2 separate regions of the Homo sapiens genome follow, and region 1 is linked to region 2. The links come from fine-mapping of genetic effects on gene expression. A gene starts in region 2. The other region holds a variant in brackets. All regions are shown on one strand. Distances are from middle to middle.

What was found.
Region 1: its variant is fine-mapped to the expression of LINC02150 in prefrontal cortex (GTEx, PIP above 0.99). The same link has a PIP of 0.9 or more in nucleus accumbens.

What each region holds. Positions count from the first base shown.
Region 1 is chr5:16,484,331-16,489,719 of GRCh38, reverse strand. All of the region lies in intron 3 of RETREG1 (reticulophagy regulator 1), which reads left to right. Among named protein-coding and RNA genes, the nearest start is that of ZNF622, 21 kb to the right of the region's middle. The variant C/A (reference allele first, on the strand shown) is at 2,499.
Region 2 is chr5:16,438,447-16,443,835 of GRCh38, reverse strand. It overlaps LINC02150 (long intergenic non-protein coding RNA 2150), which reads left to right and starts at 2,734. Exons shown (of 9, transcript NR_104625.1): 1 at 2,734-2,748; 2 at 3,755-3,950; 3 at 4,361-4,583.

The DNA.
Region 1 (5,389 bases), 46 kb before region 2:
CTTTAACTTATTGGTTACAGGCTGTGCCTTAGTCAACCCTCAGTCCCAGAGCCAGGAATGGTGACAGTTAATGTACATTCACTGCATATTTATTAAAACGAACAGAAGTTAAATGATAATGAGATAGTATTTCTTCTATGCCAAGATTCATTTTGTTGCAGCATTATTTTTTCTAGTGCTCAAAGATACTATTGGTGAAAGGGATGAAACAGGCTGCTAGCACATGTTCTGTCTTACAGAATTACAATCTATTTTTAAAGAGCACAAGAGTGTCCTATTTCTTAGTCTTACAGAACCCCCTAATGGAGAATACTGTGTGCTGCATTCTGAAACTGCCAGCCAAGTGCATTAGAAATTCCATTATGCAGGCATTAAACTACACAAAGACAAATCTTATAATATTTAAACATTGTTTTGATAACTATATTTTTTAAGGGAACAAAGGTACATGATAATTTAAAAGATACACATAAAAGTAAAATAAGTGAACTGCTTCACATCCCAGTTTGACTGAGTTATTTTGTTCATAACAAAACTCACCACTTTGTATCCTACAGTTGGCGGTTGAATCACTTAAAATCAGTTTGATCCTTTTAAGGTCTGCTTTTTTTTTTTTTTTTTTTTTTTTTTTTTTTTTGAGACAGAATCTCGCTCTGTTGCCCAGGCTGGAGTGCAGTGGCGCTATCTCGGCTCATTGCAGCCCCTGCCTCCTGGGTTCAAGTGATTCTCCTGCCTCAGCCTCCTGAGTAGCTGGGACTACAGGCGCATGCCACCAGGCCTGGCTAATTTTTGTACTTTTAGTAGCGATGGGGTTTCACCGTGTTGGGCAAGATGGTCTCGATCTCCTGATCTCATGATCTGCCCACCTCGGCCTCCCAAAGTGCTGGGATTATAGGCGTGAGCCACCACGCCCGGCCTAAGGTCTGCTTTTAAGACTTGTTAGGACCAGAGCCGCATTTAGTTTAGGACTGATTATTCTCTGCTACTGAGGCAAGACCCTTCTGAGTATTCTACCCATGTCTGTGAATTTTGAAGTTTTTCGGTCTAGTTGGTGGGACTAGGTGTCATTCTTGGCCAAAGACACTGTTCCTTCTAGTCCTTTCTGATGGCTCTTTCCTGGCCTCCGGGCTCCTCACACGCCTGTGCCAGCAAAGCCTCAGCTGAAGACTCCAGGAATCCCCCACATCAGACCTCTCCCTTTATCTCCCTCTGTACTGTGCTCTACTCTCTGGCACTGGGTCCTGCAAACTCTGGCCCCTTGGATCTCCTTTTTGGACCCTCAGCAATGTCTCCTCAACTCAGGGAGTTGCCAGGTGGTACCTGGGTTGCTGCCCCTGCTCCCAGGCCAGGAAACACTCAAGGCAGCGAGCTGGGTGATCACATAACTCCCTTATTGGTTTCTCATCCCTTAGGAGTCACTGTCCTTCCTTGCCTAATGCCCAGAGTTTTGAAAATCGTTGTTGCATAGATTTTCTTTGTTTCAGGTGGGTTGGGTATATCAGCTCCCTCTCACACCGTCTTGCCCAGAAGCAGAAGTCTCCCTCCTCTTTATTTGTAGGACAGGAATTCAGTGTTACTTTATCAAGGGTATTTCTCACAGTGACTCTTAAGGTAAGACACACCTGCCTCAGCATCATCTAGGACACCTGTTAAAATGCAGATTTCTGAGCCTCACCCAGGCCTGCTCCATCTCCATCTCTTCAGTAAGGCCCACACAGCTGCTGCTTAAACAGTGCCCTGGGTGTCTCACAACTACAGCTGCAGGAACTGCATGAAGGGCTTATTTGGCCAGACCTCCCAATGTATATGGTAAATTGTATTCTAATAGGGACAGGGAGGAAGAAAGAAGGGATGTTGGTTTGAAATTCTACTGAGAAGCCAAAGCTCCTTTCTGTGGACAAAGTGAGTTTGCTTATCTAAGGAGCCATCTTTCCATGTTTTATTCCCTTAGAGTTTCACTGGCAGGTAAAACCAGAAATTCTTCAGCTGCTGAAAAAGGACTTTGCCCTGGCTTAGGCTTCTTTGATAAAGAATTGCTTGATTGGAGAATGGCCTTCATCAAAACACCTGACTAGTTTTTCCGTAAGAAGGAAAACTTAACCAGATGGCATCTGCTGGGGCTTTTTTGGGAGTCATTTACAGTTACAGATCCTTGAGCAAAGCCCATTTGATAGATGGCATGGCCATGTAGAGGCTGGGGCTTGTAGTGACTTCTCCCTGGGAACTACTTGAACTGGACTGGCTACGAGGATGGAAAGTTGGGGATGATGGTCATCGGGGGTGACTCTTAAATGGTCTTTATCTTGTGGCTGGAGTGTGTGGTGAGTTCACTCCTTAGTGAAGGCAAGAGTGTGAGAGAAAGCTGGAAGGCTGGCGAGAGGGAGGGGAGATGGATAGAAAGATGAACCAAAGAACCTATTTCCTTTTGAACTTGGAAAGTGCATGGTCTCTCTGAAACTAAGGAGGAAATATTAATAAAGCTACTGGTAATGAATTTT[C/A]TCCCTTAGTTGAGCGTCAGTCACAGAAGACTTGTATTGTTTGTTTAGGAACTTAGTACAAACTCAAAATGTTTTGAAGCCTTAGGTATTTTCATTTCCTTTTATGTTAGTTGGGCCTTATGTTGCATGGTGATCAGTGCCAAGGATGGTGGGAAGACAGCTACACACCATGGAAAAGATCTGTTCCCCAAGCCTTGCCCAGCATTCACAGGAGATCTTTTTTCTAGTTATGTGTTTTCCAAATAAGGCTCTCTGGGAAAACCTAGAGTTTCATTACGTAGCAACTCAGCGTGTGTATGTGTGTGTGTGCAGATGACACCTGTGTTAAACATCAACCAACCACTAAGCGTAGATCTTGGTTTCTGCTGAGTATTTGGATTCTGCACATGAAGTGCTCTGTTTTCCTGGAAAGGGTTGGTCCTGCATGATGGCACGTTGGTATTGGTCAATCACACCTCATCTCTTCTGGTTCTAGGAAGGAGTGAGGAACATGAAATGCTCCTTCTCATTCTGAATTGCCATGTGGTCTCTTCAAAGAATATCATTGAATGTATTCACCCTTTGAAGAGGGCACACATTTTAAAGGATCAGAACTGTATTGGAAACCCAGAGTCCTGGCCTTGGGTCTTGGCTCTGCCTCATACTAGCTGCAAAAAGTTGGATTTCACGTTCCTCACCTATAAAATAAGGGAATTTGAAAAGTTGACATCAAATGTCCCGTCTCATGACAAATTATCTAATTCTGTATAACCTAAATTGAACTGTGGTGACATAAATTAATGGTAAACTCACTGGAAGACTATAGAAATGTGAGTTCCTATGGTACTCAGAATTAATCACTGGGCAATTTAAAACTATTGTTAAACTCCCAGGGAGCACCTGTTTTTGGTCCAGAAGAAAAGATGTGGAGTGACATCTTTTTTTCACCCTGGAACTTACATTTTCTTTTTAAATCATATATATTTCGATTAAATTTTATTCAGCCCAATCTGAACATTTATTTTTAATCTCAAACACTTATTACTCTTTACAAACCCATTTGGTTAGATATTATTTTCAGGTTGTACACAATGAATTTCTCATTTCTGTTTGTGATTATAACAATTCAAATATCAATTATAATTTATTGTGTTAATAAAAATGTAAGTAATGATGAAATTTATTGTCCCAAAAAACTATTATATGAAGCTTTTTAAAAGGGAAAAATGTAATATAATTAAGAGTGTTTTCTTATGACTATGGAAGATAGTCAAAGATTGCATATTTTTTTCTTTCTTTCCAGCAAATAGTGTTTATCTATAGACACAGAGGAATAGTGCTACCAGCATTCAAGTTTTTGATAACAGTATTTTCCACATTTAGTGTGATGCAAGACACAAAGGGGGAACTTAATAACTTTTTATTGAATAAATGAATAAATTAGTGGATAGATGGTGTCCACTTGAAGTCCCCTGTGGAAAATAGATAAGACCCTTCCTTAAATGCTAAAGAGAGTTTTTAGTTATTTCATAGTAATCTCTATAAAACACTTTAAGTTATATGAAGTCTTTGTTCTAACATTATCTCTATAGTGACAATTTAGTATTATACTAGGCTCTTTTACAATTTGGGGACATTTACTTAAGCAGTAATAAAAAATATGTAAACAAATATGGATATGGTGTCATTTCCAAGACATGAATCCTAAAGATGATATTAGAACAAAGTTCCAGCATCTGTACAAAGTACTATTCATTCAAAAAAATATTTTTTTGTCCTCGCGCAGTGGTTCATGCCTGTAATCCCAGCACTTTGGAAGGCCAAGGTGGGAGGATTGTTTGAGGCCAGGAGTTATGAACTGTTCATTTATTCCATCTTAATGTTTAAAAGAAAATAACAAATCCTTCCATTATAGCTTTTCATTGATTTTTGTTAGAATTATATTGGGCAAACAGTTCAAATGCATCCTTAAATAATTATTCAATATGCATAGAGAGCAGAAATTAAAATGTTTTCTGTCATCTTCATGGTCCCATTAAACTGAACAGTAGCTTAGCCTGTCTGTGCCAATTTGCAGCAAATCTATATTATTCTGAGAAAACAGACTGCATTTTAATAACCTTATATTTCCTTTGCCATATAGCTTTTGCTCTCTGGTGCAAAATCTTTTCCCACTAAGCAGATATCTGTGGCAAGATTTTGCCACAGATATCTGCTTCTTAGCTATGCACTTAGTATTTTAATAGATGTGGAATCATGGGGTATGCAAACCTGGTGCCAGATATGGTCCTGCTGAAAACAGATTTGCTCAGTGATTCAAGAGTGGGTAGAGTTAATGGATGCATAAACCATCCCCAAAAGTTCATTTCTTCTGACAGACAGGAAATCTACCTGCAGGAATAACATCAGCCTGGACAACTGGTAGCTCAGTGACTCTCCAGAGCATTAGTTGAGGCTGAAAGAACAAAGAGGAAGGAAAATGGTATACTTCCCCCCTTTTAAAATATGCTATTGCACTCATTTAAACTTGGATTAAAATTATTTTTATAAAAAGGAATTGTAATTTACAAATTGCCTTACTATTCAAAATATATTAAAAGTCACAGAATCTGTATGTACATAAACTTCTGTATAGTTGAGCATCTAAGGGCAAAGGTAGTTTTGATTTGTCTTAGGGCTACTGGAATTGAATCCAGAGATCAGCCTCACCCTGGTACCCTACCACAGCTCAGATGATAGTTCACTAACAATTCTAGTCTTCTTCTAGAAACTTTGCTGCTTTTGTTATTGCCATATCCATAGCTCTGTGGCAGTGCCTTCAACATGGTAGACACATATCTCTCAATAATCTCTTAAATGAATGAATTTGAGGATTCTTAACAGGGCTTGTTTGAACTGGTATGTTTTTATGA
Region 2 (5,389 bases):
CTGTGGTAGAAGGAGCAGAGGCTGAGTAGCCAGAGACTGGGGTGCAACCCTAGTTCTGTGCATGGGAGTTCTTGACCTTCACTAAGTTCTCTCCATGTCAGGTTCCTTATCTTTAAAATGAGGCTCATTACCAATCCCTTCCAGGGTCATCCCAGGCTTTCCAAAAAATATGTGATAAGGTGCCTAACAGGTGCTGACACAAGAGGATGTCTGACCAAGTGTAGTTTTTATTTCAGATAGACTAATGATGGCCAGGGAGGAAGGAGAGGGGCCATGACCAACAAAAAGGGAAGGAGAAGAGAGCCACCAAGGACAGATCCACAGACTCCCAGCTAGAAGCCTTTCAAGCCAGGTGTTTAGAGACTCAGATGTTCGGACTTTTAGGAATTTATTGGGGTGCATATACTGTAGATACTGTCAGAGCTCCATAAGACTTGGAGGACCATCTGATAATCAAACACATTTATACTTCTAGAGAGGGACATATTCCACTCATACCGAGGCCTAGAAATAGCCTTCTCTCTGGCCAGATTTTGATGCCAAAGGATTTACAAAAAATATTTCAGTGTTCAGAACTCCGGGATTTGGGACTGTAGATGAGGAATTGTGGACCTTATTGGGCTTCTGTGCCAGCACCAAGCTAGGGATTGTGCCCACGCCCTTTCATTTCATCCTTTCAACTCCATGAGCAAGAAGCAGACATCTAAGGATCTAGAGAGATCTTTGCCTAGTATCTGCCTTGCAATCAACTTTAGAGGACCTCAGGGTTGGAGCAGTGGCTTCTGGCTTTCTGATTATGGCTGTTGCCTGCAATTTAAAGTCCTAATGTTCATTTTGTTTGAAGAGGGATGGAGGAGGAGTTAGACACATGGAATGTGTGTGTGTGTGTGTGTGTGTGTGTGTGTGTGTGTGTGTGTGTGTGTGTGTGTTTCAAGATGAACTCAATAGCATCAACAAATAATGAGGGTTCAGAAAGTTTATATTTAACTTGTTGAAAATCCACCTAGCTATGAGCCTAATTTCCTGAAGAATAAATGTAAGGTGAGATGATATGTTTTGGATACCAATAAGATCCAGTACCTGCTACGTTTATAGGGATAGAAATTGAACAAATGGCAACATTTCAAAATCTGCCAAAAAGAGCCCCAACTGATTGTTTTCATGTTTATAATCTCCAACTTACAGAATTTCACAGAGGAACAAGCCGTAAAGTTGCCTGAAGATAAGTCCTGGCTATGAATTAATGTTGAACAACATGAAAAGATTACAGGTACTTGGAAATAAACTTCTGAGGAACTCATCAGAATTTCAAATTATGCAAGTATTATGATAATACTTGAGAATCTCAAAATCATTTCAACTATCAATTTCTGTGGGATTTTATAATAATTTGCAGCTTCAATGACAAAATAATTTAAAATGATGTTTTCTAACTCTACCTACACAATTATTCTGACTTTATAGGAAATAAATTACATTTATTTGGACATCTGTACATGTCACACACATTAATAGGTATTTTGTTGATTCCAACTTAAATACTTACATATTTCAAAATTGTAACCTCTTTAAGTTTGTCACTGTCACAAACTTGGCTTCATGGTACTTCAAATGTCCTCTCCCCAGCCAAAAAGCAGAAAATGTTGTCTGTTAAAAGGCAGGGAAGTAGAAAAATAACTTTTTATAATACCTGTCTCCAGTTAAGTAGATATGGCTGCTCTAGTGAGTTGAGAGGACTTGATTTTTCTCCTTTCTCCTCCCCTCCCCTCCTCTCCCCTTCCCTTCTTCCTTCCTTACGTTCTTCCTTCCTTCTCTTCTTCCTTCCTTCCTTTATTCTTTCCTTCCTCTTTCTTGTTATTTTACCCTTCAAAAGTGGGTTTTAAAGTTTCTATATACAATAAATCACTGCTACTTTATTGCGTTTATCATCTAGAATTCCTTCAGGAACCACAATTACAATCGCAACAATTAGTTGAACCCAAGGCTTCTCCCAGGATTCCTGGTAACTAGGGTGTGTCAGTAAAGCTGGGCTCATGGATGCCTATCTGACACGCTTACTGTGGACATGAACTCAACCACTGCACATGCTTGTAGTGGATGCGGTGGTGTGCAGCCCCGATCTCCCCTCCAGGACTCAGGCACTCATTCGCCCAGCTGCCAGGAGTGCTGGCTTTTGTTGTCTCACAAATGAGTCTGTCTTTGGGAATCCCTCCCTTAGCAGAAGAGAGCTGCCCTGCCCAAGGCCCTACCCCTTCTGCAGTTGGGGTTTGGGGGGCAGCACGCATCCTGTGGCTGGCTGGCCCCTTGCCTTGTCTAGACAACTCTGACAGCAGTCCATGGGATTGCTGAAGGCCTTTACTGCAACAGAATCATAATTCAATTTCTCCCTCTATGGAATCCTTTTTCTCTTCTTTATGGGTATTGATCCTAAAAGCACTCCCCAGTAAAAGTCCTGCATGTATATCTCCACCTCAGACCCTATTTCTCAGGTAAGCATTCCTAAAACCACTGGTGCTAGGAATGGTCCGAGGAAGGAGACTCTAAAATGGAATCTGGAACTGGGTCACCAGCTGACCAGCCAGCAGGGAGGACACCATAACTAGGGGTGGGTGGGTGGATTACCTACAGCCCCTGGCAGGCTGTAACTATGCAATTGTTGCAACAGTCACTGTGATGTAACTGCTGGAAGGCAATGCATTGGTAAGTCTAGTATCCGAGATATCTAGGGGTCCAGGGGAAGTGGTAATTGTAAGTACAATAGAATTGGATGGCTGTTTCTGAGTGCTATAAAATGAATTAGAGAAAGGGGATGAAAGGATACAATGATTAATTACCAATTTAAGGCTAAGTGTGAAAGCCAGAGGGCCTATGGCAGTTTATAAAGAGCTTCTCATCTCCCGCAGCCAGAAGTAGAAAAAAGCCAGGATCAAGCCTAGAACTTAATTATAAGGCCAGGAGGGCTCCAGAGAAGGTTAAAATTTTCAATCCTAGTAAGTGTGCTATGCCAAGGTCAGGACCCTGACTAGGAAGGAGTGAGATGCTGAGACTTGGAATAAGGATATATGTGTTCCTGCACCAAAAATCTCGAATCTTCAGATTCCCCTCAACCGTCTGGGCCCACTGCTCCCTATTAAAAGCTAGTGCTACCCTTGCTTGAAGAGAGTGCAGGAGCTTTTTCTTGCAAGATAGCGTGTTCTTAAGTCAGGGTTGATCCCAACTCCATTCCTGGACACTAGGCCAGTAAATACAATGGGGATCAGCAACTGCAGTCTCCTGGCCAAATCCAGCCTGCAGTCTATTTTGGTAAATAAAGTTTTAGTTTAATACAACCACATCCATTCAACGACACATTGCCTATGGCTGCCTTCATGCTACAATGGGAGAACTGAGTAGTCACGACAAAGTCCATATGGCCCACAAAACCAAAAATGTTTACTATCGGGTTCTTTACAGGCAAAGTTTGCAGACCCTGAACTAGAGTCAAGTACAATAAAACTTGACAGGAGAAGTGCTGATTGTGATAAGGAAGGAAAAAATAGACACCAAAGAAGATGCAAGACTGAGCCAGCAAGTACTAGCAGGAGTGGAAGAATATATATGGGATGAATCCTGAAGGGCCTGGGTTAAGAAGGATGCAATATATAGTTGGATACTGGAAACTTTATCTATGTGGGAGCACTCCCCTGAGATAGAGAATTTAGCACTCTTCTTGGTTGACTCTTGGGGTATCTTTGTTGACTCTTTTCTTTCTTAGAAATGCAATGATCAACTATGTGGAGGAGATATGTGAGAAATGCCTTAGCAGATGATGAAGAAAGAGATCAAAAGGCTCCGAGAAGCAGGAATGCTACGGTGGATATGCAGTCAGCTCTCTGTATCTGTGGGTTCATTCAACCTCGGACTGAAAATATTCAGCATTTGGGAAAAAAGTGGCATCCCATACTCAACATGTACAGACATTTTTTTCCTTGTCATGATTCCCTAGTCAATACAGTATAGTGACTATTTACATAGCATTCACATGATATTAGATATTATAAGTAATCTAGAGGTGATTTAAAGTGTATGGGAGGGTGTGTGTAGGTTATATGTAAATCCTAGGCCATTTTATATCACAGACTTGAGTATCTATAGATTTTGGTATCCAAGGTAGGTTCTGGAACCAATCCTTTATGGATGCTGAGGGACAACTGTACACTGGTTCTCCCTATCCATGGTTTTGCTTTCCACAGTTTGGTTACCCCCAGTCAACTGTGGGCTGAAAATATTAAATAGAAGATTCCAGAAATCAATAATTTGTAAGATTTAAATTGCACATTGTTCTGAGTAGTGTGATGAAGTCTTGCACTGTCCCCCGCAGGATGTGAATTGTCCCTTTGTCCAGTGGATACACACTGTCAACACTTCCCTCCAGTTAGCCACTTCACCATCTCGGTGATCAGATGGACTGTCGAGGTATCGCAGTGCTTGTGTTCAAGGCACCCTCATTTTACCTAATAATGGCCCCAAAGCACAAGAGTGGTGATGCTGGTGATTCAAATATGCCAAAGGGAAGCCGTAAAGTGCTTCCTTTAAGTGAAAAGGTAAAAGTTCTTAAGGAAAAAAAATTATATGCTGAGGTTGCTAAGATCCATGGTAAGAACAAATTTTTTACCTGTGAAATTGTGAAGAAGGACAAATAAATTTATGCTAGTTTTGTGGTTATACCTCAAACTGCAAAAGTGCCACAGTGCATGTATAGGAAAAAACATCATATATATGGGGTTTGGTACTATTCGCGTTTTCAGGCATCCACCTGTGGGGTGGCCTTGGAATGTATTTCCCACAGATAATGGGGGCCTACTGTACTTTGTAAGACCGAACAATCTACCAGTTCACTGTATTTCACAGGGGCACCCAGAAGGCAACCTTTTACCAAAGCTGTAAGAAATGAGCTGGTGAGAGGGGCAATGTGTCAATGAGAAACTCAATGGTGGCTACCCCCTCTAGGGGAGGGCTGATACTGTATATTGTGCCGGGGTTCTATATAACTGGGATGGTTCTATATAACAGCAGTGGGCTTCTATATAACAGCAATGGGGATGGTAAGATCCCAGATTGATAGAGGCTGGGTGGTAGACTATAGGTAGCAGACCAAGAAGGATGCAATTATTATCATGAATGGAAAGGTTGGAGTGGCAGCCAGGAGTCCTCACCCAAAGAGAGCTGTGGAGATGGTTACTAGACCACAGTGTTATTAAGGGCAAGATACAGGGACACATAAGAATAATGCCAACACTTCACTGAAGAGTCATGGCCAATTTCCAGATCTGAGCCTGTCCTTTGACCCAGAACCTGTTGACTGGAGAGGCTGGTTTGAGGAAGGAGCCTGCTATACTATGGCAAGTGC